Linked DNA regions of Homo sapiens: region 2 is linked to region 1. The links come from fine-mapping of genetic effects on gene expression. Tissue or cell type: whole blood. Region 1 holds a variant in brackets; the other region holds the start of a gene. All regions are shown on one strand. Distances are between the middles of the regions.

Region 1 (2,756 bases):
AGCTGGGATTACAGGCGGCCTCCACCACGCCTGACTAATTTTTTTGTATTTTTACTAGAGACAAGCTTTCACTACATTAGCCAGGCTGGTCTTGAACTCCTGACCTCGTGATCCGCCCGTCTTGGCCTCCAGAAGTGCTGGGATTACAGGTGTGAGCCACCGCACCTGGCCAAAATTAACCACTTTAAAGTGGACAATTGAGTCGCATCTAGTGCATTCACAATGTGATGCAACTAGTCCCAACATGCTGTCTTCCCCCCAGAAGGAAACTCCTCACTCCCCACTCTCCCCTAACCCCTGGCAACCTCAAATCTGCATTCTCACATTTGCCTACTCCGGATATTTCATATCATCTGCATCATATAATATGTGGTCTTTTGTGACTGGCTTCCTTCATCTAGCATAGAGTTTTTGAGGTTCATCTACCATTGTCGCACACATCAGTAATTCATTACTTTTCATAGAGGTGTTTCTTTAATACAATAAAATATCCTACCTAATCCCCAAAACAACCTGGGAAGTGGCCACTATCATTGTCCTCTTCTTACAGATGGGGAAACTGAGGCACGGAGTGGGTGGGGACTTGCCCAGGTTCCCTGCCAGACACCCCGACATAGCTGAGCAGGAAGTGCTGGAGCCGGCAAGCTGGAAGCAGGGCGCCTCCCAAGGCCACCAGCACATATTGAGGTAGACAGCAGTAGAATTACAAATCTAGGGAGATTTAAGGAGAACTAAAATATTCTGGCACTTGCAGGATTGTGGGAGTTGAGCAGGTTTCCCCAGTGGAATTCCCGCCTCCTCTTCCCACATGTCTGGGCCACAAGGAGTGAGAGCAGGTGGGAGGGAGGGAGGCAAGCGCGGGAGTGTTCAGGGAGCCAGAGATAGGGCAGGGGCGGGGGCAGGGAGCCAGGAGCCGGGAGCAGGCACACAGGCGTCCCGACGTCTCTACCGATACCATTTATTTTCATTCTCCCCAGTACATCCTGCAAAGCTAGTGGGGTGAGCCCATTGCACGGATGCATAACGAGGCTCAGAGAGGCTGGAGCGGGGCAGGATTTGAGCCTTAGTGTCAGATCCCAAAGCCGAGGCGCATAGCCATCCTCTGCTGCCGGGAGGGGCTAAGAGGGAAGAAGTGGGGGAAGCAAAGGAGGCTGCATCAATCACAGGGATGGATTTGCTCCAGCACGCCAGAAAGGAGCAGCCTCAGAGCCACTGAGGAGAAAGAACAGTGAGGGCTGTAAGGGGCGCTGAGGGTGGAGGCAGGAGGGCCAGGGACATGAAGGACGGGGCAAAAGGGGAGGCAGAGACCAACGGACAGGGACAGATGGAGGCAGGCACTTGGGATGTTCCAGAACAG[A/C]GGCTCTGAGGGTGCCCAGTGGGTAGGGTGGTGGTGGCCCCACCCTGACCAGAACCTGGCCTCGGTCAAACCTGACCCCCCACCCAGGACCTAGTACATGCCCCAGCCCCAGCCCCTGCCACCCCTGCCCAATCGTGTCTGCGAAATTCAAGGAAGCAACAGTAAATATGTGGGCTCCGGAGTCAGGCTGACCTGGATTTCAACCCAACTGCACCTCCTCAAGGTAGGTGAATCTCTGAGCTTCTAGCCCGGTTTCCTCATCTGTAAAATGGGTGCTGTGAGCGGTGCTGCAGTGACATCACGCAGGCACACAGTGGGCTCCCGGACAGGATCAGGCTGCTCTCCTGTCACCTCCTCACGTAGCCTGGCTCTACTTGAAGAAGCTCCTCCTTCTTCAAGGCTCCGGGCCCCTTGGACTTATTAAACCCTAGGGCTATTCTAGAACCAGAGAATTCATGGCTGAAGGGGTTGGGCCCCACCCCAGGACCTTGGCGCTTAGTGTTCCCAGAGCCTGGGAGGGAATTTCACAGGCCAAGAGCACAGAGCAAGAAGGCAGCAGCGCGGGTGGGGCCCGGGGCTTCCCGCACTAGCTGGAGGGTGTCTGAGGGCCATGGAGAGAGGAGCTGGTGGATCTGGGCCCTGTCCCAGGGGCCCTCAGCCGCTGTCCGACCGCCCCTCCCTCTCCTCCGCTGCCTGCCGGGAGACCATTAGTGAAGCTTTGTTTTGAGCACTATTTCCACTATCCTGCGCTCTGGCCGCCGGGCCTCCATTAGGGACCCTTTCCCGGACCGACGACAGGCGGCAAACAGCTCCCCAGCGAGCAGGCCCTAATTGCCGCCGCCTTCAACGCCGGAAATGATTTTTTTAAAACCTCACAAAGCAAAACAGACACCCCGCCGTCAGCTCTCCGCCTTCCCCACCTCGGGCCCCAGCCTGGGGGCTCTGAGGAAGGAGGGGTCAGTCAAGACCCCACCCCCATCCCAAGAGACACCCTTAAAATGCCGGGCTGGGGGAACATAGGGTTGGGCTCTGCACCCTTGCTTTGAACTAGGTGTGGGGCCCCAGCTCACCACGCCTCTCTAAGCCTCAGTTTTCCCCTCTGCAAGGTGGGCGTGTTGAATGGGAGCCCGATGCCTGCTGCGGGCCGTGCGATGCGGCTCTGACAGGTCATGTGCTTCTGGCTTCTCTAAGGGGTCCGTGGAGCACAGGGGAGCCAGGAGCCGGGAGACGGGAAGAGAGCACGAGGGGCAGAGGGAACAGCCAGGGAGAGAAAAGGTCTGGAAGGAACTTGGTGTGTGCAAGGACTAGAAAGGAGGCCAGTGTACACACACACACAACACACACGCATACACACAATACACACACACAAAATACACACATACACACAATACACACACAC
Region 2 (2,619 bases), 960 kb after region 1:
AGTGAGCTGAGATCACGCCACTGCACTCCAGCTTGGGAAACAGAGCAAGACTCCGTCTCAAAAAAAAAAAAGAAGACCTGCGGCAAATTACTTTTTCCTACATCCTAAGGTAATTGTGATAATTAAGTGAAGTAATATGTGTAGAGCCCTTAGAACTTTACAATATTTGTAAAACCCTTAGAAGTTATAAAAATTATTTAATATTTAAATAATTTAATGAATGTACTTAATTCATTTAGTATTATGTATAAATATAAAATTATTTTATATTTGTAAAGCCCTTAGAACCGTGCCTGGCACACAGTAAAGCTCTGTTTGCAAATAATATTTTGGCTCACCAGTAGACCACTAGTTCATACTGCTTGATGATAAGCTATTCCGCCTCATTCGTCCTTGACCCCCTAAACAGGTCTATGCCTTGGTTGCTGGGAAGGTGTGTTGGCTTTATTAACAGTAATAGTGATATGTCCTTTTACCAGGCAATTGCATGGACCAGTATTTATAGGGAAGTTTGAGCCCTGCCGCAGAGGGGTTAAGTGATGGGAAAATGCCTGCCATTTTCACATGCTGTTACAACCAGGCAGTAAAAGTCCTCAGAAGTTAAATTTTAAGTAATCAGACTGGCCACTTTCCTTCCTCTGGGAATGCAGTTGGGATGGAGGGCTCTGTCTCTAGTTGGAAAGAAGTCTGAAGTCCCCTCCTGTGTGGACACCAGACAACAGGTATCCCAGGGCCCTCTAGTTGACCAGCAATACTGTGGAATGAAGACACCCTCAAGTCACATTTGAAATCATTCCGGGTTCTTCCAGTTCAGCACCTTGACTGTTTTCCTCTTCACTGGGAAGGTGCTGGCAGCCTGACGGCCTTTTAGGCTTCTTTTAAGTTTGGGGCATCTGAAACCCGGCCAAGGTGCGGCGGGTAGTGTACTCATTCGAAGGAGAATACCCCCAATTCACTAGACGAGCCCCTAATTGGGGGTGCGGTGCCGGGCGCGCTCTTTCCTCCCCCTTTCCACCAGCACTGCCCTCAGTTCTGCTTCTAGCCACGCCCTTTCGCGTTCACGTCCAGCGCCCTGGCGGGATTGATTTGAGGACGACTGGACTGCCATTGCGCCTGCGCAGGGAGCCCAAGGCAAGAGCCGCTAGGCTGCCCTGCCCGAAGGGCTCAACTGTCAGTGAGCCTGCGCAGGAGGCCAATAGGCTGCCAATACTCCTTGGACTCCCCGCCAGGGCCCTGCTGTCAGTGCGCCTGCGCGCGGGTCCGGCGCCGAGGTTCTTGACTGCTGTGCCGGACGCCAGGTGTAGCCATGCAGCGAGCCGATTCCGAGCAGCCCTCCAAGCGTCCCCGTTGCGATGACAGCCCGAGAACCCCCTCAAACACCCCTTCCGCAGAGGCAGACTGGTCCCCGGGCCTGGAACTCCATCCCGACTACAAGACATGGGGTCCGGAGCAGGTGTGCTCCTTCCTCAGGCGCGGTGGCTTTGAAGAGCCGGTGCTGCTGAAGAACATCCGAGGTAGCGGCTCCGGAGGGGCTGAGGGGCGAAGGGCGGCGACCTGGGGCGCGGGCCAGGCGCCCTGAGGGAGGGGGCCCCACGAGAGGACCGAGGCCGAGGAGCGAGCCCTGCGGCGGGAGGCACCCGGGAGGGCGGACCTGCGCTGGGGGCGCCGAGGAAAGGAAGACCCGAGGCGGGGGAGGGAGCCCTGCGGCGGGGGTTCCCAGGAGGGCCTGCGGCATGGGGCTCCCGGGACTGACTCCCCGAGGCGGAGGAAGAAGACATGGGGTCGCCTGGGATAGGCGATTCGTAGGATGGGAGCAGGCTCCCGGGATTGAGGACCTGGGAGGGGCAGTCGTAGATTGGGATCTCACTCTCGTGGGTTTCTTCACTAACTTGCCACCCCGGCGCGGGACAAGCGAGACTCGGGTCCCTTTTTTTTAGTTAGAAGGAGATTTTTCCCCAGACCTTGGTGGGCGGCTTGCTGTCATCCAGGCTCGCGGGACCCCTCCGCGCTAACCGCAGCTCCTTGAACACTTGCCACATCAGAGGATGTTCTGGGGCTTTTAGGTTTCGGTTTCCTCCCTGAATTGAGGCTTTTCCTGAAGGGGAAGGAACTGGCTTGGTTAATCTCTGAATTCCCATCACCTTCCTTGGCATCCCAGCAGCGCCCGATAGGCGTGTGTTGACTGCACTTGCAGAACATGGTAAGGAACATGTTTTGCTCTTTAAAAGCAGGTTCCCCTCCAAAATCTGAACCTTGGGGTTGTTCAGTTGACCACTGAATCCCCAGCATGCCACAGTTTGGCCACATCCCCTGGAGAAGTGTTTAGGTTGAGTTTTAATCATATTTTACTGATTCGTATCCAAGCATCCATCCTTGTGAATTCTACTCAACTTTTTGTGGTGGGTGTGAGATTTGACTCCTGCCTTATATCCTCTAGGTGTCCAATAGGAAGGTGATTCTTTGGTGGTTGGGATTTGCAAATTTAGTAAATTTTTGCATTTGTTAGGTGGGGCCCTGTTTGGCTAGGTTGGAAACTGGGGTAGGAGGAACATTAGTGGTTCAGGACCCAAAGATAGCTTGAATGGGTATGGGAAATTGCATTTCTCCTTTTTTTTTTTT

What was found. PIP is the estimated chance that this variant, and not a neighbour inherited with it, causes the effect.
Region 2: it holds the start of SAMHD1, and the variant in region 1 is fine-mapped to the expression of SAMHD1 in whole blood (INTERVAL, PIP above 0.99).

The regions. Positions count from the first base shown.
Region 1 is chr20:37,914,447-37,917,202 of GRCh38, reverse strand. All of the region lies in intron 1 of VSTM2L (V-set and transmembrane domain containing 2 like), which reads right to left. It overlaps LOC124904896 (a long non-coding RNA gene), which reads left to right. Exons shown (of 3, transcript XR_007067576.1): 1 at 1-1,580. Among named protein-coding and RNA genes, the nearest start is that of VSTM2L, 13 kb to the right of the region's middle. RefSeq lists enhancers at 1,295-2,142, 2,143-2,756. The variant A/C (reference allele first, on the strand shown) is at 1,358.
Region 2 is chr20:36,950,331-36,952,949 of GRCh38, reverse strand. SAMHD1 (SAM and HD domain containing deoxynucleoside triphosphate triphosphohydrolase 1) reads left to right here and starts at 1,242. Exons shown (of 16, transcript NM_015474.4): 1 at 1,242-1,514. The coding sequence starts at 1,307. RefSeq lists a silencer at 1,528-1,747.